2 separate regions of the Homo sapiens genome follow, and region 2 is linked to region 1. The links come from fine-mapping of genetic effects on gene expression. A gene starts in region 1. The other region holds a variant in brackets. All regions are shown on one strand. Distances are from middle to middle. Region 1 holds the start of DIPK2A (divergent protein kinase domain 2A). Region 2 has its middle 49 kb from the start of SLC9A9.

The links.
Region 2: its variant is fine-mapped to the expression of DIPK2A in lung (TOPMed, PIP above 0.99).

What each region holds. Positions count from the first base shown.
Region 1 is chr3:143,964,199-143,980,984 of GRCh38, reverse strand. DIPK2A (divergent protein kinase domain 2A) reads right to left here and starts at 9,162. Exons shown (of 3, transcript NM_173552.5): 1 at 7,996-9,162. The coding sequence starts at 8,652. RefSeq lists enhancers at 7,427-7,686, 8,695-9,275, 9,327-9,416, 9,687-9,796, 9,276-9,856 and silencers at 7,837-8,076, 8,567-9,216, 9,547-9,596.
Region 2 is chr3:143,888,752-143,905,537 of GRCh38, reverse strand. No RefSeq gene overlaps it. Among named protein-coding and RNA genes, the nearest start is that of SLC9A9, 49 kb to the right of the region's middle. The variant T/C (reference allele first, on the strand shown) is at 7,054.

The sequences.
Region 1 (16,786 bases):
AGATTAAAATAGAGTCTACTTAAAAGTGCTTGTATTCTTTTTTCTCCTACATGACCAAAAATATTGTATACTAAATTTAAAAGATCAAAATTCCTTTTATACAATATAAAATATTTTATAATACTTCATTACCTCATAATATTCCATTAAAAGGAACATAGCTTTGCAGTTTGCCTTAAGAGAGAAAATAAGTACAGACCAAGAGATGTGTTACCATGCAAGACTGATTTTTGTTAAACTTGAAAGTTCTTAGTATAAACAAACTAACTTCAAAAAAACTATTAATAAAACATACAATCTAAAATGTGAATATCGATTTTCTACATAACTGGCATTTCTACAAAAAAAAAAAAAGTTTAAGCTTGAAAACACTCTTAGAAAGTATATGTCATCAAAAGCATAGAAAATGCTTAAAGGGGCCAGGCGCGGTGGCTTCACACCTATAATCCCAGCACTTTGGGAGGCCTAAGTGGGCAGATCACCTAAGGTCAGGAGTTTGAGACCAGCCTGGCCAACATGGTGAAACTCGTCTCTACTAAAAACACAAAAATTAGCCAGGCGTGGTGGTGAGCACCTGTAATCCCAGCTACTCGGGAGGCTGAGGCAGGAGAATTGCTTGAACCCGGGAGGCAGAGGTTACAGTGAACTGAGATCACGCCACTGCACTCCGGCCTGGATGACAGAGACTCCATCAAAATAAAGACAGACAGACACATAAGAAAGAAAAGAAAGAAAGAGCTAACTTAAGTTTTAAAATTATTTTTTAAAGCCCAAATTTGAATGAAATCCCATTGTAGTAACGCATGTTATAACAGCTGTTCATAAAGATTAGTCAACTGTACTGGTGACAGACTAATGTGTTCACAGTTTGGTGAACTGTCTGGAGGGGAGATATAGTAAAATTACGGGGATGATTTAATGGTTACTGAATTTTTGCTAAAATTTCTCTAAGATCTTAGCTTCTTAATTTATACTGCTAAATAGCAGCCAAAATCCATTGCAAATACTGTAGAAGCTTAACAATTTCAAGATTTTTAAGTCCTAGCATATGTCCCATTTATTTCATGAAATAATTTTCTGAATGCCATTTTCCACCCACCTCAAATTCCAACAATATTAAACAATGCCTTGAAAATAGTAAGGTTGTGTTATTTTACTGAATATCATGTCCAACAGCTGTATCTAAAATTGGAAACTGATGTCAAAACACATTTTAAAAACTAAATTTAATAGAAATAGATTATCTTTTAGAATAAATTGCTTAAGAAATGCTGCCCCCACCAAAAAAAAACACAAAACAAAAAACACTTCACTTGTTCACAAGTTTTAAATATGCATAAGTTTACTAGTCTCAACTGACCCTTACTGTGTCCCAGGGGTATATACAGATCAGTTCCTGGCACTATTGACCAATTCCACATAATTACTGTCAGATCTTTTCATTTCAGAGTTAACCCCCAAAAAAGCATTAGAAAGAAAAAATACGAAGACACTGAAGCATCATACTTACTTCAGATTACAAATCTTTTAAGATTCTGTCTCAGAGTCTAAGGTCTAGACTTAACCTGTTTTTTTGTACTACCATTTACCAATGTACTAAATAGAATTACTAAACTATAATAATGATTTACAGAGAAAAAAAGAAACTATTTGCCTTTTACTTCTTAATCCTTATCTAAACCGTCTTTCCTACCATATTCATTCTATTCATTACACTTCATATGAGACAAATCCCTAATCCCCTTTTAAACTACTATTTTTAAAAAACTATAGCCTGAATAGGTACATATGATTTACGTATATGTAAGGACAGTGACATTTGAATGTCTGCAATAAGAAAAGTAGGATTTTTACATTTCTAAGACAGACATCAGCATAATGTACTAAAGAACTTTTAACTACTATAGCTGTCTAAAAATGGAATAAGCTGATTTTCAAAGAAATAATACACTGTAAAAAGCTTTACAACTGAAAACATTTAACAGATATTACTTGAATAATCCTTTCTTCTTTAATCTTTAAAACAATCCTGTTAGGTAAGTATTAACAACCCCATTTTACTGATTAAAAAAACTTAGAATCGGAAACATTAAGTGACTTGCTCAATACCATCCAACAACTTTGTGGTAATACAGAATGTGAAATGGATGCTCTATCAATACTGCCCCCTCCACCCTTCCTCCCACTCTCCACCCCCATCTATTGGCAAAATCTCTGAAACTTTCCCTGGTACCATTCCTATCAATATACAATGAGATGTCCCTCCCTGAGTCATGTGACAGTATATATATATATATATATAGATATATATATATCTATATATAGATATATATATATATATATAGATATATATATATATATAGATATAGATATATATATATAGATAGATAGATAGATATAGATACCTTTTGTACAGGGCTTATTAAATGGATTGTATAATAATTAGTTATTTGTGTACCTACCTCCTACATAGTAAGCTACTTGTTTCCTACGGCCATCTTTCCATCCTTTCAATCCAAATGCCTTGTAACAGATTGTAAAATGAACAGACAAATTCAGTTCTTTTGGTTATAAATTCAAAGAGCTCTCAAGAATTTCACAGACAACTTCCTATCACCTTATACTAACCTCACCTTACACTAATAATTTTCAGTCATGTTACAACCATTTACTAAAGTTCATCAAATGTATTAGAAAAATGCAGGATTTAAATTATAAGGCCATAATTTAACATATGGGTAATGAGTGAAAGCTGAAGAAAGAAAAAAATAGCATTCTGTGAAGAGTCAGCAGCAATGACAGAAAAATAGGAAGTAAGCCAGAGCCCACAAACCAAAAAAACAGAATAAAAACCAGTCTGACAATCCCCTGAGAAGCTGGACACCCATGTCCAGAAGACCTATAAAAACAAGCTTTCTATTTCCCAACATGTGTGAGAATATGTGCTAACCTATGCAATGGAAATATAAAGAATAGTTCAAAGACTAGACAAAAGTATACAAAGGACAAAATTCAAAATGGTCAAAAGATATGGATATGTCCAGAAACTAGTCCAGGATGTCAAATGACTTTGCTCTACTGATTCTGAAGTGATGCTTTCTTAAGGGCGATTGTCTGTTTCTAGGGTCTTTCTAAAATAAAAGTCCCCACCCCCTTTTTGGACTTGAGGTATCCAAAATTGTTTTATTATTTTTGTTTGATTATCTTGAAGAGCAATCAAAAGTGTCAATGGACTCTCAGATGAAAAGCCACAAAAAGTTCAAAAACTTACAAAATTTATTAGATTAAAAACTGCTCTACTAAGAACCATCTCTAATGTGTTCTGAAGCCGAAATCTAGGAAGACAGTTACTAAAGAAACAGCCAGTAAAGGAGAAGTAGGTGGTTCCTTAAACTGTTGTTTGAAAAGAAACTCCTGAAACAAAGTCTGGAACATCGTTTTGCACACTATTGCCTCACAAGATCCTTGGCTACCCTTAACTCCACATATTTCCCCTTAAAGGAAGGTTTTGGTTTTTGTTTTATTTCATGTGTGTAAAAATTTGGGGGTAGGAAGAAAGGCTTGAAAGAGAGCATCCCACTCCCAATCCCCTTTCAGAAGAGCTTAATTAAACCCACTCGTTAAAGTTCAAAAGAAAACAACAACAACAACAACAACAATAAAAACCAAATTTCTCAAGAGTTTGAAAGCCCCAGAATGTTGGAGCTGAAAAGGATCTAATCCAATAGCTTCATTTTATAAAGAAGGAAGTGAGTCCAATAGTAAAAATCTATCAACTTTTCTAAAGTACCGTTAGCTAAATAATCTTTTGTTTACTTCAAAAACTACATTTTCACCAGTGAACTTAAAAAATATGTTGTTCCCTATATAAATTACTTTTAAAGGCAAAAACAACATTCACTGAAAGTTTTCTACAAAAAATTATATCAAAGTAATAATGGAAAAAAATCAGTATAACTAAAGTATGGTTGATATTCAAAATCACCATTATTTTTAAGGTGATCCATACCCCAAATGAGCTTCAAAACAGCTGATCAAATGCACCAGGCAGTTAAAGTTACCTTTACTTTATTCAATATCTAACATTTATTGAATGCTTACAATTTACCAGATACTACGTGAAGTGCTTTGCATGTATTATATCATTTATAAGAATAGAAAAGCAAGCTTAAAAACCATAGCTTAATGATAGTCATATACTATAAAAATAAAGTAAATCCTATTAAAACCATGATTCAGAAAATTTAAGGCAAATGAAGTTCCACAAATAGTAACATTCCCAGCTCGTCCCCCTAAACAACAAAGAGCTTTCTCCATTTCCTACAAACAAGACCATCTTCACTACTTCCAGGTTATAAAGTCAGAGATTCTGTCTGAACTTCAACAAATCCAGACAGCATCTCTCTCTCTCTCTCTCTCTCTCTCTCTCACACACACACACACACACACACACTCTCCCTTTCTGTAAATTCAATAGGTTAAATACAAATACGATGGAAAATTTATCAACAATAACTTGTGATCTTGCCAATTACTTCAACAACTCAATTTTTGAATACTTCAAGATTCCTATTTACACAATATAAAAGTCAACATAGTTCCTCTCCTCCATTTTTTTTTTCATAGGATTACAGTATACCTGGCACTAAAATACACACATCTTAGTGAAGTAAAAATGTGACGACGAGGAAAGGGTATCAGAGTAGAAGATAAAGGTACTACTAGCATTATCTTGTTGCTTGATGTTTATAAACATTTTTTAGAAGATAATAATTCTATGGGTAAACTGTTGTAAACTAGTGAAACTATCCAACAATAAGAAGAAAGCCATACTCTCATGCCATTTCATATGGGGAAATTTATATCACAAATCTTTACAGCCTTACATAGATAAGGTATGTGTGTAAACATCTTAGACACTTAATGTCTTTCACCTCTCCTTTCAAGGAATAATAGCAACTTCAATTTTTTACTGTTTTTTCAAATCAGAAGAGGTGAGTTTAATGGATTAAATTCGTAAGTATTTTTCAGTTCTTAAACACCTTATCAAAAGAAATTTTTACATGCTTATTTTGAAGCATGCTTACGATACTGGAAGTTTTGTTAAGAATACTTGGATGAAGTCAGTTCAAAGACTTTTTTTTCCCTGAAGTTGTTAATTTTTGGACAATATAAGAAAAATCTAGTTTGTCACCAGCTGTCCAAAAATTCGACAAGTAGCTCCCTCTCCTGGAGGAAAAAAGTGAGTTCCTCTTCAAGCTGTTAAAACACTTGTACTCTTAAAAATATATTTTTTAATACATGAAGCAATAGACAGCCAAATCTGAGTTTTTCTGTATCAATTAATATCCCAGTATTACTGTAAACAGCTATAAACAGTTTTATAAAAACCTGTATAAATACTAAAAATGTAGTTTCCTAGCTAACAAAGGTAATGAACATCATGGTTTGACTTACTGTACAGCAACTTTTGTACTTGATCACAGAATGTTGAGATACCTTTCATTTTGGTGGTTTTATACAATCATCAAACCTCAAGTATATTGTTCAGACTTGTAAATTCACTAGCTTTTTCCAAAGATCAAGTGATTCTACAAAGAAAGCAGCGGCTCTCTGAAAACTCTTACTTAAAAATATCTTCTTCCTCTACTTGCTTGTTAATCAGGTTTTAAAAAAATTACATGCCTATATGACTGGCTGGTACTAAAGACCCCAAAATTATATTACACAGTATGTACTCAGCTATAATTATAATACATATATTAGTATTAGTACTATTCCTGGGAACTGGGTTGTGTAAATTAAAAATGTAATTTACAAACCTCACTCTAAAACGTGGAGACATGTTTCATCACATACTAAAAACAAATTCTTATCCTATGGCCCATGTGTTTACCCACTCAAAGTAGCTGTGTCATTATGTGTCATATATAAGAAAATAATTGTGCTTTTTCAAAAAAGGCTGTTTCATCACTAAAGATGAGAACAGATAAAGAGTAAGTTTGAGGGAAAAGTTAAACAGAAAACAAGATACACGCACACTTGACTATCTCAACTACAAAGTAAACTGAGAATGCCATGAGAAGTTCAAACTTAAAAAAATATAAAACCTTCCTGCACAAAGCACAAATTTACCTTAGTGTAAATCAGATGCCAAAGTTTCTCAAATTCAATGCTATGACTACACTTAAAAAGAACTGGCCACATAATGTTCTTAAAATATCAATTCTACTGTTAGTTGTTACTAATACATCACTATTCAAAATTACCTAAAAAAAAAAAATCTTTCGGTAGGGACGCCAGCATTTTAAGTACAGTAAATGTATATTACTAAGACAGCTCCTTGCTAAATTTCTGGGTCTCAGAGAATTTGTCCGGGTATCTACTTCAGCAAAATGCTAACACGATCTCCAAGAACCAACCTTGCTAATACAAACAAGGTTCTCTTTTAAAGATAGCTTAATGAGAAACTTCAGTTCAAGTGTATGTACATCATAAATACAGGCTAAACCTTTAGAGACTGACTAGTTTGGGAACTACTGAATAAAGAAAATTTCTTCAAGGAAAGTTTAACCAGTTTTATGCATCCATTCAGTTAGGTGATACAGCAGTATTTAAAACACACTCTGACTTTAAAATTAACCCAATACACATAGCCTCTGATGTCCTAAAATTTACTAAGACCCACACTAAAGTTTCATCTGAAGCCAAATATTTGTGTTACATTATTTGGCTGAACTAATCAAACGAAGCTGGTTTCTTTTAAAGCTAAAATGGGCAGTGTAGAGCTTGAGAAAAGAAAATAATATAAAGAAATCTGCACTTTCCTATTCATGCATTTTAGAAAAATAAAAAAAAAAAAAACCCTGTACCTCCAGCCCTCAGTGACAGCAACCCAGAAAGAATGTGAAGTATACCAAAATTACTTGTGAACTTTTAAGTCATTTTTTTCTCTTGTCATGGAAAGGAGCACGGTAACTTTTCCTGCAGACAGAAGGAGAAACCACAACCCCACAGTTGTAATCACTGTTCAAGGACACCGCACTGAAGCTGGGTGGGAATGTGCAGAAACAAGCAAATACTCCGAAAGTAAACAGTGTTTTTGTTTTTTGTTCTCTTTTTGATGTCACCAGTAAAGATTCCATCCTATTCCCCTAAAAGGCACATTACTTTTCAAAACAGTCAGACGAGAGCAAACAACGCAACTGGCGAAAGGCAAGAATCTCCTTCCCTGATACTCGCCCTGGCCTAATATTTCATCTCCCTTCAACTAGATTACCAGATGAATAGGGCAGGTCACAGGATCAGGATGAAAACGTCTGTCTGGCCTTAAGCCCTCCCAGCCCCAAGTCCAACGCTGCCTTACTTTTCCTGTTTCTGATTCTAATCCCACCCAAAGCTCGGCTCACAGATTAAACCCACCCCGACCACTGTCCCGTTCTCCGACTTCATCCTCCCCAACTTGTCCTCGAATTAGGTGTCCAAATGACTGCCAGGTAAATGAGCGAAAACAAAGACTCTGAGACCGAAGTTAGGCCAGCCACCAGCGCCAGAAAAGGAAGAGCGAACGCGGTGTAGAACACTTCAGAAGAACTAGGAAAGGTCCAAGGGCTCGTGAACAGTCTGCGCCGCGGACCTGCAAGCCCCGGCAGATAAAAGCAGAAAGGCAGGGTAGAGAGCGGAAGGAAACTCGCAGTAGAGACATTTTGGGGAGTGTTAAGAGACGCACTCCCTCTGGCGTTGAAAGATCCACAGTCAAATCCGAAATGCGCCCGAATCTAGGTAACAAGAGCAGACTCTCCATCAGCGGGGTCGCCCTCGGCCTCCCTGCACAGCCCCGGGGCTCCCCCGGAGACGCCCCTTCCCACGCCTGCAGCCTGGCCCAGCCCGGCCGAGTCCGAACTGGCGGCAAGCGCTGGCTGAGCCACTTCTCCCGACTCTGATTCCCACGCGCGGCCCCTCCCAGGACGCCCCCTGCCCTGGCTCCGCGCCTACCTGTAGCACCAGCGGCTCGGGGTTGAAGGCCAGGGTCAGCAGCAGCTGCATGCGCTCCGAGTCCTTGAGGTTGCGAAGCAGGAAGCTGCCCGAGTCCTTGGTCTCCGCGTAGCGGCGCACCAGGCGGTCGAGAAGGCGCTGCGAGGGGCAGTGCACCAGGTCCGACCAGCCCTCCACCGCCTCGGGCGTGAGCAGACGCACGTCGCCGTTGAGGCGCGCGAACTCGGTCCGGGGCATGGCCTGCAGCAGGTCGCAGCGGGGCCGGCCGGTGGCCCGCTTGCAGATGCTCTGGTCGAGCTGCGCCAGCTCGCGCTGCGAGCCGAGGCGCTTGAGCACCACTCGGCGGCGGCCGCCCTCGCGGGGCTCGCCGTACTGCGCGAAGTACACGTTCTTCACGTTGAGGAAGTCCAGCAGGCGCAAGCGGCCCCACGCCTCGAATACCACCTGCCCGTTGAGGAAGCGGCGGCACCAGCTCGTGCCGAAGCACGCCGGGCACTTATTGAGCTGCAGGAAGCGCCGGTCGGTCAGTTCGTTGCGCTGCCAAGAGGCGAGCAGCGACGGCGAGTGCAGCACCATCAGCACCAACAGGCTGCCCAGCGCCGCCAGCTTCAGCGAGCGGGACAGGCGGCCCAGCTTCGGGGGCACCAGGCGCCACATACCGCCCGCCCGCCCGCAACGGGAGGGCGAGGGCACCCCCGGGGCGCCCCCGCCGCGCCAAGACCCGGAGAGCTACCGGCAGGAACCCCGGGCGAGAGAAGGAGCTAGCGCGCGGGCTGGGGCGGAGGGCGGAGTAGGTGTGTGAGAGAGGAAGACGGGGAGCGGGAAGGCGCGGGCCTGAGCGGGCTGCGACTTCTCCCAGTCACTAGTCTCCACAACTCTCGAGCTCCCTCCTCCTAGCTCCCCGCCCTCCGACTCCGGCGGCGCCTCCTCCACGCCAGCCAAGTTATAGAGGAGCGGGAGGGGGAGGGAGCGCGGGGACCCGACGGTCGCGCGCCCGTGCCCGCGCGCACGCGCACTGCTGGCTTCGCACAAGAGCTGCGGCGGCAGCCAGCCACGACAAGTGGGGTCTGCGAGGAAAGGAGGGACTCACGGAAGGGGAAGAGGAGCTAGGATGTCTCACACCCACAAGCAGCAACGCACGTCTCAGAGCCGCACACCCTTGCTTGTGCGCGCTGGCTCTCCTGAGACCAAGAAGGGGAGCCGGGGGCGGGGCCAGAGGGGCGGAGCGAGCGCGTCGCGCGCCGCCCGGAAAGCGTAAGCGGGAGCTCGCGGGAGCGGGTGTGGGGGCGGTTCAGAGAGGGGGAAGCTCGGGCTCTTGAGGTGGGGGCATGAACTCGCGGTTTCTGGTTTCAGAAAGAGTCTTAATTACAGTCATCTTTTATGATTATTGTGGTTTACTGGTGCGTTCCTTTCACTATTGTGGAAACGGCCCTTTAAGGGAGGAGGGAATAAGAAGAAATGAACTGAGGAAGTCTATTGCAAATCCTTCCCTCTGGACGGCGCGCGAGGCGGAGGCAGAGCTGGCGCGATTGCCTCCCCTCGCCTTATATGGGTTGGGTGCGCGCCTGGGGGGTGGGGCGAGGCCGGGGAGTGCCCGACGGGGGCTTGTGTTCCCCTCAGCTCGTGCTCCTCGCGGTAGGGGGTGGGGCCTGTGAGGAAGACGGTGAGAAAGGCTCGAGTAGTGGCGGGTTTGTTGGAGCTTCATCTTTGGGGTTGTATCTGTAAAATCATTTAAAATTTTCTTGAGTGAGCACAAAATAAAGTTCTCAAGCCACCGTGTTAAAGGGAAAATAGGATGAAGGGGAACCGACGCGGCCTGGTGTCGCCAGGACGTCTGCCCCAAGCGCCGCGAAGAAGCCGGGAAGAGTTTGCCAGGCTTGCCTCTGCTGCCCGCCGGCTGCCCTAGCCCGTCCCCGGAGCCCTGCGGTTCCTCTCCGCAAAGCTGATTTCCCGGTGCCGCCCCTGAGGGTCCCTGAGGAGCGGGCCGCGAAGCGTTGCCCTGGCGGTAGCCATGGGGACCCGGGGCTGCTTGGTGCTCCGCACGGTCACGTTGACTCAGTCACCCCAGACTGCAAAAGTAAGGCGCAGATGCCGCACGAAAGCACTGTGTTTAGGGATAAGTTTCAGGGGACCCGGACTGTTTAGCAGTAGCGCTAGTAGATACATTATTATGCTATTCACTTTTAGTGCTAGAGTAGTTAAAATGAGAAGTGATTTTTAGTCTGAGGGACAGGTGGTTCCTGATACGTTATTAAACAACTGAGTCTTAACTGAGTTAATTTTAGGGCTTGAACAGTGCTTTTAGAAGACCATGGTAACTGGCATGTGTAGATCAACTCTACAGCGGGTTAATAAGAAACATCTATACCAGGTTATCAAAAGTAACAATACTTTCAGTATTGTTTAATTGTAACAGGTATTTGTTACAAATTCTTATAAGAACTCAGATTTTGAAAAAAAAACTTTGAGAAATTTAATAAATTCAAAATAGACGTGATTTTGTAACGATTTGCATTGAATACGGACAGACAAATTGAAATAATATTCAAAGCTTTCTAGAAATTGACTTACTGTACTTAAGTTTGGCTACTTCTGCCTAGTGCCTTATGCCGCCTTTGGTGGGAATTTTATTTAACTTGCTTTCAAATATCCCCAAACTCCATATAATATAGAGTTAAAAGCTCAAGTGAGATTTTCTTAGGAAAAGGAGTTTGGTGTGATGGTTCTGGAGACCTGTGCTGTAGTTCAGCTGTGAGGCTGCTGCTGCTGCTGAATTGTAAACAAAGCAAGTTATTACTTAACTACAAATTTCTTCTTTCTGACATCTTTTCTATATGCCTCATAAATTTGTTCGATTAATAGTAGACAATCTATTTAGAATTGGTTTAAAACAATAAAAGTACTACATAAGTTGCCATTAAACTGATTAAGCTGAGAGAACCGGGGCATAGTGAGACTATTTAGGTAACTAGTAACAGGATTAAGGAGGTACCTGTACTGCTTCTTTGTATCGAATAGGTCTTTGGAGTTCTTAAACTATTCTCAGCCTCCAGATGCTTGGAATTGTATAGGCATCATTTGAAACATGGAAATAAAACACGGTTACTAGTCTACACAATTTGAATTTTGAAAAACATTTGCTCTGCATCTAAGTAGTTTACATTTGTTTAAAAGCTCTGATCTTTTCAGTTAAATTTTCTAGATGTTTATCAGGAGAGATAGTTTTCAAGAACTTAATACATTCATCAAAAGGAAAAAAGTCTTAGAACTATACAAGATAAACATATAGTGTTCCAAAGTGCCATATTAAGGTTTGCAAAATATCTCTTAATTGGGGCCAGGCACGGTGGCTCACCCCCGTAATCCCAGCACTTTGGGAGGCCGAGGCAGGCGGATCACGAGGTCAGGAGATCAAGACCATCCTGGCCAACACGGTGAAACCCTGTCTCTACTAAAAATACAAAAATTAGCCAGGCATGGCGGCGCACGCCTGTAGTCCCACCTACTCGGGAGGCTGAGGCTGGAGAATTGCTTGAACCCAGGAAGCGGAGGCTGCAGTGAGCCGAGATGGCGCCACTGCACTCCAGCCTTGGCGACAGAGCAAAAACTCCGTTTCCAAAAAAAAAAACTCTAAGTGAAGGTTAATGTGCATTACTCACCTTTCCTATAAACTACAGGATGCTTTCAACCAGTGGATCATTTAAAGTTCTTGACCATTATTTTAAGTAATGGCAAATAATGTAATTTCCAGTGCATTGTAAAATGTCATTTTACAGTAACTATCACTGTTTTAAATATTATCAGATGGAATTAAATACCATAGTAGTTTGATACTAACATCCATTTTGATAGTCAAAGTTTTACATTGTATTACTATTCTATTCTCTACTGCAGTGGTTCTCAGCAAGGGACTGTTGCCTCCCAGGGGCCAGTTGGCAATGTCTGGAGACATTTTTGATTTCATAAACTAGGGAGTGGGGTACTACTGTTGTCTAGTGGGAACATGCCAAGGATGCTGCAAAATATCCTACATTGCAAAAGACAACCCCCAACAACAAGAAATTAACCCACTCAACATCTCAATAGTGTGCTGTTGAGAAACCCTGACTAACAAGAATTCTATATAGTACGGTTTTAGGCATAAGCCTTATTGGTTATCCTTTCCTGCAGCAAAAAATATGTGTATACCGTTGTCCCTTGAACAACACAGGTTTGAATTGTACTCATACATAGATTTTTTTCAACCAAATGAGGATCAAAAATATAGTATATGCTGTATATGAAACCCAAGGACAGCTGACTTTTACTGTAAGCAGGTTCTGCAGGACTAGCTGCAGAACTTGTGTATGAGAGGATTTTGGTATACCGGGGGTCCTGGAACCAATCCCAGGTATATACCAACAGACAACTGTATTTAAATTTTGTGTATATCCTGTGATCATAATCTCCTAAATGCTAACATAGGAATTTTTTGTATGATTACAACTATAATTAGTGTTCAGCTGATCAAAATAACAAATATCCCAATTTGAATAAATATAAAAAGTAACATTTTATTGAAATGTATTTCTTAATTAGCTTGGGCATTTTTTTAAAATTAGGTTTCCATGAACAAATATTATTTATTGCTAGAATCAGACGAAGTCTAACATCAGTTTTCTCTCTTCTTCGCTTTTAGAGATGTAAGGGCCAAAACATCTTCATTTATGTTTAAAAATAAAAAGAATGTTTATATAGCAATTTCATTCATTTCTTTTTATTCCTTTTGACTAGAATCATTTACCGATAGTGATCTATCATCAGAATATTCTGAATGACATACCAATTAGGTTTTCCAAGTTAGTTGGATTTAGAAGCAAAGCATTGGAAGCCCATCCTGGAAAATGATTTTTTTACTTGGGTATTAGAATTATTTTATCATATTGACTATATTCAGTGCTCTGGCAGTCATGTCCTGAGACAGTGCACTATAGTAAGATTCAGGGTGGATAAGAGGTATTCGTTTTGTAAAGTCCAAAAAGATAATTTCCTGTATACTAAAGAACCCAGAACAGTGTCTGGTTTAAGTGGTTTGTTCCAGTAGTAGGTGGATTAACAATTGAAGGAATAAACACTTTCAGTATTATTGTAATAATCCAAACTAGAAATGATGGGTATTAGCTGGTTAAAAAAAAAAAAAAAAAAAAGCTAGCACATTCTGGATATATTGTGAACGTAGAGCTAACAAAGTTTACTCAAGATTTTAATGTGAGAGAAAGGCAAGCATCAGGTATTATGGCATGGTTTTTGTCTTAAACTATTGTAAGAATTACCATTTGTCTAAGCCCTTTGGGGCTGCTGGAACAAAAATATCTTAGACTAGTGGCTTATAAACAACAGAAATTTCTTTCTCACAGTTTTGGGGGCAAGTCCATGATCAAAGTGCTTGCAAATTTTGTGTTGGGTGTTTTCCTCATTCATAAATGTTTCTGCTGTGTCTTCGCATGGCAGAAGGGACAAGGGAATCACTCTGGGGTCTCTTTTATAAGAATACAAGTCACCTCCCAAAGGACCCACCTCCAGATACCATCACATTGAGGATTAGGGCTCAACATATGAATTATGGCACAAGGGGGTGGGGGTGCAACTGACACAACCATTCAGATCCTAGCACCATGTACTGAGATGAGGGAGACTGAGAGGAAAAGGATGAGGAAGATGCAAGTACAGTTCACGTGTCCATATTCTTCAGTGTCCATTTATGTTTCAATTACCTGATTTATGTGTGTTAGGAGAGGTACCTTAAGGACCAGTTTTGTTAAAGGGTTTTTTTTTTAATCTGTTTAGCATTTTAACCGAATTTTTAAAACATCTTATTGTATTTTAAATCCATAACTCTCTACATAGGTATTTTCTAGGACAGATTCTGTATCAAACAGTTGGCTTCATTGGTTGTAAAAATAGAATTGTCAAACATACATACTAAAACCATGATTTTGCTTGAAATAATTGAATCACATAATTTTCTGACCTTGTCAGAATAATACAAATTAGCCCAAATGCAACTGTAACATTATAATTCATGATTTATATTAATTCAAAATATTATGCAGTGTTATAGTTTTCCACATTGACTAGGTTAATAGAGAGGCACATTTTCCTTTTGCTCAGTACATTTTTAAAACTTGTTTTTTTCCAGTTTGTTTCAGCACAGAACACAATATTTACAAATATTTAAAAAATTAACACATCACTGAGAGGGGACTTATGTACCCACTTGTTAAGATCTTTTGAAAATTAAGTCATGTATGTAGGTATAAATTAACATTACAATAGTCTATTTTAAAGATTGGCATGCATTCTAACAGTGTGGTTTATTTAGTTCCAACCATGTACAAGATTCTGGGTGTGTGGTTTCTCAGAGTCCAGTGGAGGAGGCAGATACATGCATACCAACATTCATTACATGTTTGTGACAAATAGATAAAATAAATATTAAAAGAGCACAAACAAAAAATTCCTGTAGCTATAGATGTTATATTTGCACTTATATGACTCCCCTCAGGAGAATAGGCTGTGTACACTAGGAGAATTTTGCTGCTGCTTTGTCAACTGTTTTTCTCTCAAGCCTCACATCCTAAGTCTCCTACCTTTCCTCATTCTGACTTGTGCAAATGGTGTTCCTGCCACCTCTATGGATGATGGAGGCTACACAGCTCTTCTCTCTGGGCAAGCATGCCAGAGATCTTGGAGAACAGCAACTGCCTGTTCAGAGCAAAAGCATTCATCCGGATAACAAAAGTGCCACCTTCTTTCTGACTCAGTTTTCTTTACCAGGCTCCTTTTGTAGAAACCACTTGTATAGGTAAAAGACCTGCTATAGTCTTCAATCTAATGGCCGTGCCAGTTTTAAAGGTCAGCCACAGCTGGGAGAGAGAGGCCAGGTAAGTGTTACACTTGGGTATCAAATATAATGTGTATTTAATGTTCAAAATGATATAGTCCAGAAATGTCCATTTTGTTTTCTTCTTACAAAAGGACTTATAAAACTCTATAGGCAAATAATTAAGATATCTAATTTTGGGGAACTAACTATAGAGATGTCTTATTATCCAGTGTAGTCTAATCAAGGAGTATGGCCAGTAGAATTATGGGTTCACCCAAGAGAGTCTCCATCTTTGAACTATAATTGATACACTGGTCTATCTGATTTGACACATCATCACCTTCTCCTCTGTCCTTTGCAGCTTCATGCCTTTCTGTAGATTGATATCCAGGACATTTTTCTTTTATATTTGGGAAATGGTAAAGTTCTAATTATTTTTTGACAAATCAGGAATTAAAATTTAAATTACATCAAATGAAATAGAAATATGACATACTGTTTTGTTATAATTAGGTTTCCTTGAAGAATTTGCCTGCTACTTAGAAAATAAAACTTGAAAAATTATAAATAAGTGAAATATATTTTGTGCTGATTTAATCATAAGATAACCAGACCATAAGAACTTGTTGGCAAACTGAAAGTAACAATTTAATGGATTAAACTAGGATATCATGATATATTTAATTATTCTAAGATAAAGTGACCCCTAATTGCAGTCATCAGTATGCAGGTTAAATAAATACAGTTATTGGAGTTCTAAAAGGAATGTTAAACTCTGTAAAAATCATTACATCATTCGATAGTTAACGTGTATGTCTATCCATTTTTTTGGAATGTATCATCCTACCAAAATGACTACCAATGAATTGCATTTTTACATTGTTTTTCCACATAACACTGGAAATAGATTGCAAAGGACATTTCAGGGAAAATTCTAAGAAAATAATTATTTTAAAAATTACTTTCCTCCAGTCATGGTGCCTGATGCCTATAATCCCAGCTCTTTGGGAGGCCAAAGCAGGCAGATCACTTGAGCCCAGGAGTTTAAGACCAGCCTGGGCAATGTGATGAAACCCTGTCTCAACAATAAATACACACACACACACACTCACACACACACACTAGCCAGGCATGATGGCGCGCACCAGTAGTCCCAGCAACTTGGGAGGTTGAGATGGGAGGATCACTTGAGCTCAGGAGGTCGAGACTGCAAGTGAGCCATGTTCCTACCACCGTACTCTAGGTGACAGAGCAAGACCCTACCTCAAAGAAAAAATTACTTTCAGATTCCACAGATTTTTCTAAGTCAGTATTAAAAGAAAAATATTTTTCAAATAAAACATTAGCCTATGTTTTTTATAATTTTTCTATTGTTGGCATATAGAAATAAAATTGCTTTTTTAATATTGTCTTTGCAATTAGGAAAATTGCTAATAGTCATCACCATTAACTACTGCAGTAGTTTCTTTTGGGTTTTCCATACAAATGTTATATAAATTATAATAGCATCATTTTTAAACCTTTCAAATACCTAGGCATAAATTGAAGGAAGGATGTACGTCTCTACACTGAAAACTACAAGTCAATATTGAGCGAAATTAAATATCTAAATAAATAAAAGTATATAATGTGTTCAAGGATTACTGGATTTAATACTGTAAAGATAACAGATGTAAAAATGTTAATTTATAATTCAATATAACCCTCATCAAAATTCCAGCAAATTAAAATACATATATTGACAAGCTGGCTGGGCACAATGGCTCACACCTGTAATCCCAGCACTTTGGGAGGCCGAGGTGGGCAGATCACTTGAGCTCAGGAGTTCAAGACCAGCTTGGGCAACATAGTGAGACGCAGTATCTAGAAAAAAAAATAAAATAGCAAGGGGTAGTGGCACCTGCCTGTAGTCCCAGCTACTCAGGA
Region 2 (16,786 bases), 75 kb after region 1:
GCAAAAAGAAGGAAAAATAAAATTTCTGGCCGGGCGCAGTGGCTCACGCCTGTAATCCCAGCACTTTGGGAGACCGAGGCGGGTGGATCATGAGGTCAGGAGATCGAGACCATCCTGGCTAACAAGGTGAAACCCCGTCTCTACTAAAAATACAAAAAATTAGCCGGGCGCGGTGGTGGGCGCCTGTAGTCCCAGCTACTCGGGAGGCTGAGGCAGGAGAATGGTGTGAACCCAGGAAGCGGAGCTTGCAGTGAGCCGAGATTGCGCCACTGCAGTCCGCAGTCCGGCCTGGGCGACAGAGCGAGACTCCGTCTCAAAAAAAAAAAAAAAAAAAAAAAAATTTCTAAACAGAGAATGTAATTACCTTTCAGGTATCTCCTAAAATAGGATTGGAAACTTTGTCCATTCCTAGTGCTCTTTTTAATTTAAGATAAACTAGCTGCCTAGTGCTGCAATGTCTGTTGCTCCAATGATGGATGTGCTGAAGGTGGTGATTTCATCACAATGCAATATATCAATGTAGCAAAATTGCACTCGTACCCTATGAATATATACAAATAAATAAATTTTTAAAAGACCAACTAGCACCAGAGGCTGAACAAGAGTTAGAAGAAGGGATACTCCACAAAAGAAAGTGAAGTCCATATTATATGATCCCATTTATATGCAATGTCAAGAATATGCAGACTTGCAGAGGCAGAAAATAAACTAGTGGTGCCCTGGGATTGGAGGGAAGGGGCAGTTAACCAATTGTGACAGCTGAGAAGTATATAGGTTTTAGGAGGAGTTGAAGTGATGAAAATGTTCTAAAATTTATTGTAGCAATGGTTGCACAAGTCTGAATATACTAAAAGCCATACAAATGTATGTTTTAGGCAGGGTGTGGTGGTTCATGCCTGTAATCCTAGCACTTTGGGAGGCCGAGGTGGGCAGATGGCCTGAGCTCAGGAGTTTGAGACCAGCCTGGGCAACATGGTGAGACCCCCGTCAGGTTGCAGTGAGCCAAGATCATGCCACTGCACCCCAGCCTGGGAGACAGAGCAGGACTCTGTCTCCAAAAAAAAAAAAAAAAAAGTATTGTATACTTTAAACAGGTGGACTTTAGGGCATGTAAATTATACCTCAATAAAGTTGCCACAAAAAAAAGAGGTAATTGAGGCAAACCGACAGTGAAAATGATCAAATGACCAAGGGATGGCAGGAAGGGGGAGGACCAAGAGAAAGAATCAAAAACAAAGAGTTTGCTTGCCAAATTCCAACCTCAGAGGGGTGGCCACATGGAGATACTTCGACAATTTAAAAATTTGGCTTCAAGTTTTTAAGGAACTGCAGACAATTGAGAGTCAAGAAGCCAATCCTAAATCTCAATTCCTCTGTGAAGTATGTAGGGTTTGGATTAATCAACCTGAACCAAAATAAAAGACAGTTTTGCATATGATGTTCAACGAACTCTGTCTAACAATGCAGTTGTTTGCTACCAGCCTCCTTTTATTATGAAGGGAGTACCTTTAAACTCACTATAAGGAGTGACCTCTATTTTAATCCTTCTTGATGTTTTATATTTTAACATAGAATCAAACATGAACCTGAGAGAGCTGTGTACCCAGACTGTATATTCTTTTTGACCACATAAAGTTTATTTAATTTGGTTTTTTGCCCCTATGTCATCTGCTTCTTTTGAAGAATCCATTGAAAAAATATCCCTTGAAAGTCAACATCATCTTCATTGGAGGAGTGGTTTCTCTAAAGCATGTCCATGGACTTGAGTACATCAAAAGCATCTGAAGTTCTTGGCAAAGCATGGTGGCTCACGCCTGTAATCCCAACACTTTGGGAGGCCAAGGTGGGAAGATCACTTGAGGCCAGGGGTTTGAGACCAGCCTGGCCAACATGGCAAAACCCCGTCTCTCTTAAAAATACAAAAATTAGCTGGGCGTGGTGGCATGCTCCTGTAGTCCCAGCTATTTGGGAGGCTGAAGCATGAGAATCGCTTGAACCTGGGAGGCAGAGTTTGCAGTGAGTGGAGATCGCGCCATTGCACTCAAGCCTGGGCAACAGAGTGAGACTCTGTCTCAAAAAAAAAAAGAAAGAATCTGAGGCTCTTGTCAAATGCACGCATGCAAAGCTACTTAATCATAAGCCTGAGATTGTCACTTAGGATTATGATTCTATATGCTAACATATAATTCTGTATATTAACAAGGACCTCTTCTATTCATATCCCAATTGAAAACCACTATGACATATCACATATCTCTCCTTTGTAAGAAACCATGAGAAACATCTCTGATATAGTTTGGATATGTGTCCCCATTCAAATCTCATGTTGAATTGTAATTCCCAATGATGGAGGTGGGATCTGGTGTGAAGTGATTAGATCGTGGGGGTGGATTTCTCATGAATGGTTTAGCATCATCCCTCTTGGTATTGTCCTCATGATAGTACGTGAGTTCTTATGAGATCTGGTCATGTAAAAGTGTAGCACTTCCCCTCTCACTCCCTTGCTCCTGCTCCCACCATGTGAGATGCCTGCTCACCCTATGCCTTCCACCAAGATTGGAAGCTTTCTGAGGCTTCCCCAGAAGCAGATACCACTATGCTTCTTGCACAGCCTGCAGAACCATGAGCCAATTAAACCTCTTTTTAAAATAAATTCCCTAGTCTCCTGTATTTATGTATAGCAATGTGGGAATTAACTAATACAATCTCTTACTTCAATTGTAGGAATAACTGTCCTAAGCAAAGCACCTCACCTCTACTTATACTACAGCCAGCATTACCACACACGGTACTTAGAGATACAGTGAATTTTGTAGTTGACTATTCTTTATAATTTACCTACAGGAAGATTAGAATCCAATTTTCCACCTCTTTATATTTGATGTGCTGGTCTTGGACTAAGCTCATTTTCCTTTTAGTCCAATTACTTCAAATTATTTTAATTTGCTAGTTATCTAAGTCACCTCAAATACTTTTTGCAACAAGGGGGTGTAAACAAGCTATTAAGAAAGATCTTTAACAGTCTAAAGCATCAGGATCCTGTAGTCAAGGAACCAGAAGCTCATTTACGCAGTCACTTGCCATTCCTCCCTTGAATGCTTTATAGTTTCATGTCCCCAGGGGACAACTGTGTATCATCCTTGTCTGAGGAGCAGAAATGTAGACTGTTCATTTCTCAGTTTAGTGGCCATAATATTAGTGATGGAGACACTGTCAAAGCTTTACCTGAAGCACCCCTACATTTTTAGAAGGAACCGGAAGCACCCCTACATTTTTAGAAGGAACCGGAAGCACTCCTACATTTTTAGTAGACTAGAAGTCTACTAAAATGTAGACTGTTCATTTCTCAGTTTAGTGGCCATAATATTAGTGATGGAGACACTGTCAAAGCTTTACCTGAAGCACCCCTACATTTTTAGAAGGAACTAAAGCCCAGAAATAATAACTAGTTGGCTCAAAATTGTTCCTAGAATGAGAAAGCTGGGATAAGAAAGCAGGTTTCTTGATTCTTCACCTATTCCTTTTCTTACCACACCATACCCATAGCACTTCCCAATTTGCTAATTTCTATGGATAATTCAAGGAGGGTTATTGCTTCTTATTGCAAGTTGTCTTGTATTCTAAACAGTAACCTGAGGGATGCACTCTGGATGACCCAAGACTTAAGCACTAGGAAGACACCCTCTGTTTCTTGCTTTCTGGGGTTAGTTCATGAAAGTAGCTACAGCAGAGGGAACAATGACCAGGTGATGAATAGCCTGATAATCTACAAGCCATTGCTTAATTTCCCACTGGATTAGTCTGGCCCTTCTCCCTATTATCTCTAAAATTCTAATCTCTAGCATCCTTTTAGTGAGAGCATCTCTTAGAAATTTGAGAATCCTCTTGTTTCTATGGAGAAACTCAGTATGACATGAGCATGTTCAAAGAGAAGACAGTTCTTTGAAGAATATTTTATTGATGAGGGTTTTTTTCCCCCTTAAGAGACATGAAAGGTTTGGTCTGAGAAACCCAAGTATTAGACAGAATCATTTATACCTTGGGATTCCCAGGAACCAAAGTGTATGCAAAGTCACAATACTCAGAAGGGCAATTTATTTATATTATATGTCAATTAGTAATATGCAGATGTCCTAAAATTGGTTGTGGTTATATATTGCAATAATTTCTAATCCATTACTCATAAAATGACTAATGAAATTACAAAATACAGCAACAGATCTGATTCCTCTGAGTCACTCTGCTCCTATTCTTGCTCATTTGCTATTTTTTCTCTACACACACACACACATACAAACACACTTTCAGCAATTCAGTCACTCAAAGCTGCAGCAGTTTAGAGATCAAAGTTTCTACATTTCCAGTTTGAAGTTTCCTTAAATAATTAAACCTAATCTAAAACTCACTTAATGTTTCATGAATCTTATTTGCATTCTTCAGCTACATTCTACCTGGTTCATTAAGTGGGGGATGATGGTGAAGAAAAGTGCTTGGGGGTTGATGCCTAGATAGTATAAGAAATAAACCAACAAGCCAAATTAAAGATAATGTTAATTTGTAACCATTGTTCAGTTAGTTGGATTTAGTTATTGTGATTCCAAAATGTATGCAACTGAATATAGGGCCAACCTTAGGGTTCCTGGTATGCTGCTTTGACTGATCATGTTTTGGGCTGTGATGTCAGTTTACTTTCCTGAGCCTGAAGGGAAATATTCAAAATGTGAGCAAGTTAGGCAAGTTACGTTACTTCTCAGAACTTCAGTTTCCCCATGTGCTAGTTTCTTAGCTTTCAAGTCTATAGTGAGAATTAAAGATAATAGGTATCTGGCCGGGTGTGGTGGCTCACACCTGTAATCCCAGCACTTTGGGAGGCTGAGGCGGGCAGATCATCTGAGGTCAGGAGTTCGAGACTAGCCTGGCCAACATCGTGAAACCACGTCTCTACTAAAAATACAAAAATTAGCCGGGTGTGGTGGTGCACACTCATAGTCCCAGCTACTCAGGAGGTGAGGTGGAAGAATCGCTTGGACCCAGAAGGTGGAGGTTGTAGTGAGCTGAGATCGCACCACTGCATTCCAGCCTGGGTGACAGAGCAAGACTCCCTCTCGGTGGAGGGTGGGGGAGGAAGATAATAGGTATCAAGTACTTAATGTAGTGCCTGGTACATAATAGGAAGTTGTTATTGTTATTAACAGTAATAACAGAGGGGCTCTTGTTCTATGATAAGAAAAAGAAACTAGTTTTGTAGCACAATTAGAATAATTAGAATAATAACCACAAACTACTTTTCATATCACTCTACAGGCAACATCGTTTTGCTTGAAATTCTCTAGGAATCATTAAACAATTCCAGAATGTTTACATCTTCAATTTTCTGGAAAAGTATGCCCTGAGAATATAGAATATTGACACTTTTTAAAAAAAATATTGTAGTGCCTCACATCTGCTCCAATAAATTAATGTTATCTTGATTGACACCTTTGGTGGAGGCAAATGTAGGAGCCAATGAATAAATTGACCCGATAACACATCGTTAGCAAAATTCTGTGTTTTTATATCTTTTACTTTAACACACTTTGAAACATGTCAAGTTTGTATTCCTCCTTTCTGGTTGTGCATGGTCAGTTACTGACCTTCATCTGGCACTTTGTATAATAGAACATGTGTCACTAAAAAGGTCTTTATATGTTAGTCCTGAGCAAGCTTTGATGCTGTGGCTGCTCCCTTTCTTCATGTGAGTGGCGCAAATGGGAGGACCAGTGTGAATGATTGCAAGCTGTCTAACTTAACAATCTAGGGAGGTAACACAATTGCAACAAAAGAAACATTTTGTACAGCTTTTCTTGGGTGAGTTATAGTATCTATAAAGATGGAAATAGTTACATATTTCTTTATATTTTTGAGACTAAAAAAGCTGTAACAACAACAAAAAGGATCACAAAAATGCAATAAATGTGTCCATTGGTGTGTTTTTTGTTGTTGTTTTTTTTTGTTTTTGTTTTTGTTTTTTGTTTTTTGAAACGGAGTTTCACTGTTGTTGCCTAGGATGGACTGTGTTGGGGTGGTCTCGGCTCACCACAACCTCCGCCTCCTGCGTTCAAGCAATTCTCCTGCCTCAGCCTCCCGGGTAGCTGGGATTACAGGCATATGCCACCAAGCCCGGCTAATTTTGTATTTTAGTCGAGATGGGGTTTCTCCATGTTGGTCAGGCTGGTCTTGAACTCCCGACCTCAGGTGATACGCCCACCTCGACCTCCCAAAGTGCTGGGATTACAGGCATGAGCCACCGCGCCTGGCCAAATGTGTCCATTTTTATCACCTGGTTCATCTAGTATTCAAAGACAAAAGACTGACAATGCACATCGCAATATTCTGTGATTCTCTTACTTGGGTATATTCCCAGAAATTGATGTCTTTAAAATCAAAAGCACTTAGGAGGTATTGATGTTAAATAATATTAGGGTGTCATGTTAGTCACTTTGTGCTGTCATAAATACCATAGAATAGGTGGCTTAAACAACAGAAACGTATTTCCTCATACTTTTGAAGCCTGGGAAATCCAAGACCAAGATGCCGTCTGATTCGGTTCCTAGTTAGGGTTTTCTTCCTGGCTTGCAGGTGGCTGCTTTCTTGCAGTGCCCTCTTTTTTGTTTCACTTTTATGTTAGTTTCAGGGGTACATGTGCAAACTGGTTCTACAAATAAATCATGTGCTGTGGGGGGCTGGTGTACACATTATCTTGTCACACAGGTAATAAGCATAGTACCCAATAGGTAGTTTTTCCATCCTCCTGCCCTCTACTCTCAAGTAGGCCTAGATGTGTATTGCTCCCTTCTTTGTGTCCGTGTGTACTCAGTATTTAGCTCCCACTTATAACTGAAAACATGTGTCCTCTTATAAGGCCACGAAGCCTATCAGATTAGAACCCTACCCTAATGGCTTCATCTAACCTTAATTGCTTCCTAAAAGCCCTATCTTCAAAAACAGTCACATTGAGGGTTAAGGCTTAAACATATGAATTTTGGGAGGACACAATTCAGCCCATAGCAAACA[T/C]ATTTTTAATACCAAAGAATTAATAGATTAGGAATAGAGGGCAAGCAAAGTCAGGGAAGAAGAGGAATTTTACATGGTGTGAAGAGTAAATATTTGTGTCTCTGTTTTTTAGTTACTGAAGAATGAGCTGCCCTTAAGTTTACGGACTTAAGTTTTAGTACTAGGAACAACCATTAAATAAGAAGCATTTCCTGGCAAGCTGTCCCACAGAAAGGTGTGAACTAGCATCCTTCTCACAAGTTTCCACAGAATTCTTGGCTAACTGGCATTGTTATAGCAACCAGAGTGTCAATGGAAGCAGTCATGGCCTTCGTAATCAAGTATCACTATGGCAACAGGAGCCTCTGGGAAGTAAAAGAAAAAAAAAATCTTAAACTGTCAACTGGAATCAAAGACGTTTGAAAAGGAAAAAAGGCGGAGGCTGAAATGAACATGAGGCTAGAGCAAGGGCCAGAGCAAAGAGAAATGATTGTACAGAAGCTGAACAAACAAGAGAGAAGGGAAACAATAAGCAAAACAGAGGGCAGAGACGTGGCTCGCATTAAGAAAGAGCAAGGCAGGAAGAAACGCAGAAACATAAGATAGTCAAAGCCATGTTCAAATGAGAAGATTCATAATGTTTACCAATTTTAATAGCCCAGGGTCAGATAAGCATGGAATGTTAAAGTCTATGTTGAAACTCTCTAGTATGCTAATAGAAGTATTGAAGAGATCTTTAGAATGAGGCCACGAGATAGTAAGAAAGGGGAAAACCATTTGTGGAGTGCTTTTGGCATAGCATCCTGCTGACTAGGAATTCTTGTAATATTTGGTGTTCAAAGGTACCACATTTGAATGTGAGTCTTCCTTTATTGGACAGTGTAATTGCTTCAGACAAGGGCACATTGCCATTTGGTCCATTACAAATATATGTTTTCTTCATTAAAGGATCTTAATGGATTTTTTTCCATGAAACAATTAAGGGAATTACTCTAATACTATTAAAAAGTACGTGGCAATGTCATTTGGAATAAAACATCTTCAATTGATATTTTCTATATTTTATTATCAGACAGGACTGAAGGTTTTTATGGCCCAATATTAACTTTTTGGGAAGGGAAAATATATTTTTTATAAAAGATGCCACTAAAATGTCAATACTTCATTTGTAGAATTAAGAAATGATTTTCATAAGTAAGACATTAAAAAAGGAATGAAAATAGAAATTATAGGTGCAGTCATAAATAGTCAAGAGAAAAATAACACAAGTTTGAGATTAAAACATAGAAATAAAACCAGCAGTCTGGGTGCTTTGCAGAAATCTGGTCCCACAGATTCTAATAGGATTTTTTTTTTTTAGACGGAGTCTCGCTCTGTCGCCCAGGCTGGAGTGCAGTGGCGCGATCTCTGCTGACTGCTAGCTCCGCCTCTTGGGTTCACGCCATTCTCCTGCCTCAGCCTCCCGAGTAGCTGGGACTACAGGCGGCCGCCACCATGCCCAGACAATTTTTTTGTTTGTTTGTTTTTCTGTTTTGTATTTTCAGTAGAGACGGGGTTTCACCGTGTTAGCTAGGATGGTCTCGGTCTCCTGACCTCGTGATCCGCCTGCCTCGGCTTCCCAAAGCGCTGGGATTACAGGCATGAGCCACACTGCACCCGGCCTATAATAGGATTTTTTTTTTAAAAAAATGACAGGCATTTCTTTCACGGTATTTTGGGTGTGATTTGCTAAAATGGCAAGGGGTGGTTTGTGGTCATTGTTTCTTCAGCTAAGAATAAGTCCACTGGTTGACAGCCAGGATGAGGAAACCTCTTTAGGAAGGCCCAAGTATTCAGGCGGAGGCCCTGCTGACATGCCTTCATCAGAAGTACAGACCAAGTCACAGATCACATCACAGAACCATCATCTATCTGACCTTTGGGATCCATCCCATAAGCTTGGGTGCCAACAATGACTGCCTCTTTCTGAGAGTTCATGATTCAAAAACCAATACAAACCTTTTTACTGGATAATCCTCAGTTTAAAATATGGGTTTTTAAAAAATATTGCAGCTATGTTTTTGAATTTTTTTCTATTTCTCTACAAACATACACACCAAGCATCATTTGTAAAATATGTATAAAATTCAATGAAATACATAAATGACCAAAATTCTAAATGTTCTAGATACATGAGAAGTGAAATAAAAAATCAAAGAAACATGATTAGGAGTAAAATTAGGAATTGTACCCTTAAAAACAAGCTTTTTAAAAGCATAATGTGTAAACATAAAAGTACCTAAATTATAAATTTGCTACTTGTTGAATTATCACATAGGGAACACACATGTTTAATCACCTCCCAGATCATAATATGAAACTTAATGTCTTTTCAGTGATTTTCTAATAATATAAGAAAAGAGTTTGACATATTTTGCAGTCACATTCATTTACATTGTAAGATGGATAAGCAAAATAAAAAATATTGCACTGTGACTGTTAAGAATTTTTTGTACCATGTGCAAAGAGAGACCCCTGCTGGAACTTTTTTTTTTTTTTTTTAATTAGAATGTCTAAACCAACTCAGATGAACTGTATTGTTAAAGAAATGCACAGGTACACCTGAACTTAAAAGTTAAAAAAAAAAAAAAAACACAAAAGAGAAATAGCGATGACTCTGCAAGCTGTAAGATAAAATTTCTGAATACATTTTACCCCAAGACAAAGGAATTTTTTTTTTTTTTTTTTTTTGAGATGGAATCTCGCTCTGTGGCCCAGGCTGGAGTGCAGTGGCACGATCTCGGCTCACTGCAAGCTCCGCCTCCCGAGTTCACGCCATTCTCCTGCCTCAGCCTCCCGAGTAGCTGGGACTATAGGCGCCCGCCGCCACGCCCAGCTAATTTTTGTCTTTTTAGTAGAGTTTCACCGTGTTAGCCAGGATGATCTCAATCTCCTGACCTCGTGATCCGCCCGCCTCGGCCTCCCAAAGTGCTGGGATTACTACAGGCGTGAGCCACCGCGCCCGGCCGACAGAGGAAATTTTTAACCTCTCCACAAGAAAATTTCCACAGCAGGGGAGATTTTGGGGTTTTCTTTGATATGTTTTTCTCTGCTTATTTTCTTTTGATCTCCAAGCTTGAGTAACAATAGGTTCTAGCTGTTATCTGCCTGTCTTGACATATCTGCGGAGGTGGTAATTGACCCCAAAGTGAAAACCAGAGGTTCACAGTCAGATGGATCCATATCACTTACACTTTCTCTACTATGTGACTTGATTTATTCCAAAGTTCAGTACTGCATATTCGCTCTTTACTGGGATTTTCCTGGTGATATATTGGGAGTGTGTGGATGTAAAGGATGGAAACTGGATTTCCAGTCAGTCTCTTGTGGTGAGGTGGGCCAGTGAAGACAACAAGCAAGAGAATCTGGAATTGGAGCAATAAATGCATGGGTGTTGTCCTGCCTGAAGTGGAAAGGTAAAGGCTGGAACAATTCCCTGTCCCAACTCCCAAGCCCTTGTGAAGGTTTTGAGGGTTCCTTAGGCAGAAAATGTGGCATGCCCAGAGGGATTCAGGTGCATAAGACATGGAAATGATAAAACTTTTAGAACCTGAACTGCTCTAATTTTACCTAAAGCTCCCCACAAACCCCACTCCATGCATAGCTTCTCTATGTTTCCTCTCTCAGAAAAATACTACAAAAAAGCCCTCCGCTCCCCACAAACCCAGGATGTTACCATATTCACATCTCCTTCTGCTTCACTTGGACCACCAGTCATCAAATTCTGTTGATCCCCAATTCTTAACATGTTCCGTATCCATTTATTTCGGCTTCTGAAATGCTCTGGGGCTGCTCCGTGAAGTTGTAATTTTTCACCTGGACCACCATGACAGTCTAGGAATTGGTGCCTTGACCTTATCAATTCTTCAAATAGCAGGGATAAAATCATAGCTCTCTTATGATTCAAATATTTCATCTCAGTTCTTTTGAGGTCAAAACTTCTTGGTACAACATAAAAGGCCCGTTCTGATCTGGAAACATCTTAGGGTTTTCGTTCTATCTCTTGGTAGACACTTCCCCACCTTTCTATACTCAGACATTCCTAGCTGCTTGGGGTTTTCTGACAATATCTGCATATGCTCTTCTAACAGGAATACCCTTTGCCTGTTATTTACCATGCCAACTGCTTGTAACTTCCTCCGTTTTGAAGCTTTTATAATCCTTTGCTTCCAACCCGTTGAAAAGAACCATTTCCTCATGCTACAACTATAACCTGTACATACTTGTATGGTCACCCCTTTGCCAGTTTCTTGAACCTATTTATCTACCTGCTGCTTTCTCCAAGCTGGAAGGTAATCTGGGCCACACCTGCTTCTGACTGATATTCTTAGTGCTTAGCCCAGGGTCTGGCCCTAAAAGGAGCTCCTTAAATACTGGTTAAATATGTAGTAAGAGGCTTCAAGGACTGAACCCCAGTGATTCTGAAGGAGTGACTGCTAGAGATGTAGACAATTATTTGTTGTTTTAGCTAAGAAGTAGCCTAAATTTAATTTTGTGAAAAATATATTAATGGCCCTTTTGTTAAGCAAAGGTAAAGACAAATTAAATTTCAGAATGTCCAAGCCAGGACACAAAAAAGCTAAGCTGAGCTACATTAGCAAGTGCAGTAGAGTCTCTTCATTTTTGTCAGAGTGGCATTTTTGCAGAGATTATCATGGCATTCAAGGGGCATCACGCTAGAGATAGGTTGGGATAAGGATATAATGTTCCCCTCCCTTGTGACATGGTCAAAGACACTTACAGCTACAGGCAGTAAGCTGATCTCTAAAACATGTCATCCCCTTGGGCTAAAGAGACAAATGGGCAGCAGACCTGACCAAGGGAAGGAAAGAGTTGAAATATAAAGATATTTGCTTTTTCCTTTCCTATATTTTTATTTCCCTCTGTAAGCTCCAAGCCTTCAGTTGCATTAAGCACTCTAGCTGGTTTCAGTTGAGCTTTGGGGAAATATGTGAATAACATTGTCTACTCTCAGGACAAAGCAGCTTAGGAGCAGTCAGGGCATCTCATGATGTCCACTCATCTGGGCTGAAGGAGTGACAAAAAGAGCTCTTTCTACCTCTTACAACATCCTTATAAGAACTAGGAAACGTGCCCATTCTTCTTCAAAGGTAACTCTTTACTTGCCTCTGCCAGGAAATGGATTTGGTATATTAATTTGTTAAAACAAAACCCTTAACTCCCATCTGCCAGAAAACTGTTACAATAAATCTATGATGTCTATAATGAAAATGATGCCCCTTATATGTGGTGCCCTTGTGCATTACAGAATCTGCATAGCCAGACACAGCATCTGTGTTAATGAGAGAGACAAAATGCAAAACATTAACACGTCCTGAAGATCCTGAGTACTATTTGAGAGTGAGCCTGCTAATCATGGCAGGTGAGGGCTGACCAAGAACATTATCACTTCTGTTTACCTGAATGAATGATATCTTTAAACAATTGCATAATGTGTACATTTTCCCCAGACTAGGCTGCAAAATAGTCTGCTATAGCTATAGTTCAGGGCATCTACAATTACAGGAAAATCCCCTTTGAAGCCAGTCCAAGACCTTTCCCCAGATACTTCTTTACAAAAGAAAGGCCGAGATGTCTAGTCACTTTGTTCAAATCCAAAGAATTGGATTCCTGCTGGTTCTGACTTAATCTTTCTCTACTTAAAAGATGTAAAATATCCAGCATTTTCTGTTTATATCTGAAACTATCCCCTCTTACTTTGCAGGAAGCAAAGAACTGGAATGCTAAACCACACAAGGGACCAGTGTGAGGGCTAAGTGTGACAGTTGGCTGGTTGGCCTGTGGACTGTGAAATGCAAAAGAGAATTAAATTTTGCATTCTGGGATGGGGATGCTAGGAAGAATGGGGCAATATGGGACATGTGGTCTAATGGGAAACGTGGGAAAAACAAGCACACCAGAACAAAGGGTCTATAACAGATGAAGACTGACTTGGCAGGGTTAGGAGATGGAAGTGGAGGAAATACCCTGGGGTGACACGGCATAGAGGGCGACACTCTACCCAGAGAAACCCAGGAGCAGGAAGAGAGCTGCTAAGGCCAAGTGGGTTCGGAGGGAACATTTGTCACCATTGTGCCTGTTCAAAATCCAAACACTGTTCTTACTTGAGGTTAATCCAAATAGACGAGAGGCAGGACTCCGCCTCTCATCATAGCATCATAAGTGAGGCAGATGTTCCTTTTCCCAGTTCCCTGGCAGCAAGGATGTGGGATGTAGCCCAGTATCAGCCAACTGACTGCTCCAGCCCAGAAGTTTAAAATTTAGGGGTGTCATGCTAACTTAGCACAGGTTCCCTAGGAAACAAAGCCTGGGCAAAAAAGCTCAGATGCCATGTTTTTATCGAGGAGGTGCAATTCCAAGGAAGCAAAAGTGAGAGGGAAAAGGAAAGTGAGACAGAGGGAAGAAAAGGGAAGGAAAGGGGAGAAGGAAAATACAAAGTGATGCACCATTAGGCTACCCACAGCTCTCAAGAAGACACAACTTGCTGGCTTAGTTATGTGAGACGGTCCCTATCGAGAGCATGGAAACTGTCTTAGGGGCAGCTTCTGGGCAAGGCTCTGTGTATCTATAAACAGGTTGGACTAGCCCTCAAGCTGCTTTGGCTTTTTGACAAAGAAGCCATAGTGACAAGACATTGACCATGCAAAACCCAACCCCATCCAAGGGGGGTGCCTGATCTCCTACTTCACAGGTGAAGTGGGAGATTGATAAAATAAAAGATATGATAATGTTTGCAGTGGAGCTTTTCACACCATGAGCCATCTCTCTTGAACTGCCTGCCTGGAAAGCCAGGCACGTGGCACAAGCCTGAAGGTATGAGGGTTCAGCGGCTCTGAGTTGGTGCAGAAATAGGGTCTGGTACTAACAGATAGTCACGGAAACCAAGGAAGATTTTTAAGCACACATCTGGTATTCCAGGGTGACCATGCCAGCAGTGACATTGTAACAATTGCCCCCATAGCTAGGGGAAGATGGAAATGAGTGTTTATTTTTTAGTTCTCCATGGACTCTGTAAACTACTGGTCTTCTTTCCAATAAACCAGCTTTCAGCTTAAGTAACTAGAATAGAATTGATCACTTTCATAGCCCATTATCCTTTGGCTTGCAAAATGCAATAATACTCTTTGCTTGCTTTGGATGAGGTTCTGTGTGAGAACATTTATGTATATATAGGGGCTTGTGACAGACAAAAAAAAATTTTTACGGCTCCAGAATAAATCATCAGTGAAAACGTTTGAAAATTATTTCAAAATTTTAAAACACTGGGAAAAATGTGTTTTGCTGTTTTGTTCATTACAGAGTATGAACAAAGAAGCTAGCATTTGCTGGGGGTTACTCAATGTACCATGTGCTTTATGTATGTTATTTCATTTAAACCTCAGAACAACATATGCAATAGGCATTAAAAAGAGACACCACAGAGAGTTTCAACAGAGCCAGGACGGTACAAATACAATTAATAGCCATTTCTTGGAAATCTAAACATCTGTGTTTTGTAACACCCTATCCCTCCTACATCTTTATTCATATTTTTTGTTGGTATCTTTGAATTCCTCATTGTATTTAATACAACACCTCTCACATAGTAGGCCCTCAAAAATGTTTAGCAAATGGAGTTGGAGTCATGCCATACGTAGCAAAAAAAAAAAAATGCCTTTTACAGATTAAGTGAAAAGCTACTTTGTATTCATTCTGCATGTTATAGCAATGGGCTTTCAGTTTCTTATGGACAATGTACAACATAGCAATCATGATGTCTCTTCAAATTTGTTAAAAAAAGAATTTACCTGTCTGCATATGTCTGTGCATGTGTAAGTCTTTTGTTTTAGAAAATGATGGTGACTGTGATTACCATCCGCAAAGCACTAAAATGACTGCTCTGTAATTAACAATCATTTCTACACTGTACACACAAAAATTCCCATTTGATTTTAACCCATTGTCACTATCAGTGAGCTCCTTGCTCTTCTCATGGTAAACGGTAACTCGCTACCCGATGTAGTTTCAGGCAGATTATTTTATGAAACAGTGGGGTTTCTCTTGCCTCATCAGTTCCTAGTGGCGCCATACTCATTCATTTAGTAACTATTTAATATTTATGGAGCACCTCCTGAGTGCCAGGCGCTGTGGGGCTTTGGTGCTATTTGGGCTTCAGTGAATTATAAGCATGGCTTTGATTCCCCACATGGGTCCTTGGTTTTTGTATTGGTTACATGAAAATATGTTACTATAACAAAGAACTCAACAAATCAGTAGATTAAGGAAGATTATGTCTCTCACCTAATGGTCCAGGACAGGTTGGTGGGCTCCTCTGCCTCACATGCCATTCAGAGACCCCGGTTCCCTTTCTCTTGCTTCAACTCTAGGTTGTGGCCCTCATTTGTATGGTCAAAGGTGGGTCACAAGCACCTCACTCTTCCAGCTCATAGGAGGAAAAGTGCAAAGAAGGCTGCGTGTGCAGTGTTTTAAGGTTCAGGCCTGGAAGTGACATGCACACGACTTCTGTTCACACTCCACTTGTTACATCTAGATGCAAAGGGGCCTAGGAAATGGTAGTCTGTAGCTAAGTGGCCACATGACCAGGTAAAACTCTACTCTCTTGGAGAAAAGGAAAGAGGAAAACCCACAGACAACTAGGGCTCTGTCACAGCATCTCAGGGCAATCAGGGCTCCGTATGCTTCACACTTTGGTTGGTTCAAAAGAGTAGGTCAGCACATTTTTACAATCACCACTTCAAAACCATTCTGAGACCTCACTTTTGGAGACAAAAGTTAGGATGTCCAGCTCCTCTAAGAGTTCACGCTGGTCCAGGGAAACCTCATCTTTCTTCCCTATACTTGATGTAGCACCTTTCTTTCACCTTTTATCCTGCTTTCCCAGTCTCATTCCTAACCCCTAATCCCAAGCCAGCACACTGCTACCACATCTCATGCTTGGAACTTGCTATTTCAGAAACCTATTATTGGTAAAAAGGTAAAAACCTTATGTGGTAGGACAATTTATTAAAATATTTATTGAGATATTAATGTGTGTTTTTGTTTTCCTGTTATAGAAAAGTCAGAAAGAATGAAACATGCTTATGTTTTATCTTTAGTGTCTATTTTCTGAATACAGCCAGGCCTCTTCTTTCCCTTGCCTTGAGTAGGGCTGAGAGTGATATATTGAACGCTGAAAACAGAAGTTGCCTAATACTTTCGTCTTCAAAACTCTGAGTTAATTGACAGGATTGTGATAGGTCAGTTTTTCTCAAAATTTAGCTTTGCATTAGATGTAGAGGGTTTGTTAAAACATTTATTGCTGGGCACTTAGAGATTCTGATTTAGTCGGTCAGGGGTAGTGCTTGATGATTTACATTTCTAAAAAGCTCCCAGGTGCTGCTGCTGCTGGGCTCAGGATCACTCTTAAGAAAACCACTGTGATAATGGCTCCTCAGGGCAAGAGTGTTCTGAGGGTACTTCAGAAGCAGCCTAAGAAAGCAAAATGATCTCTCCAGAGGAGAAATGGGCAGAGATCTATGAGGACCTGAGGCCTCTTCGGTGTCCTGGGAGATATCAGAAAATGAATGTCATCAGAATCTCATACCTTGGCCCAAGCCAAGAGCAGCACCCCTGACTTTCAGCAACCATATAGCTTTTGCTAATGCATGTAAGTAACACAGAGGGATCAAACTCCTGAATGCTTCTTACACCTTTG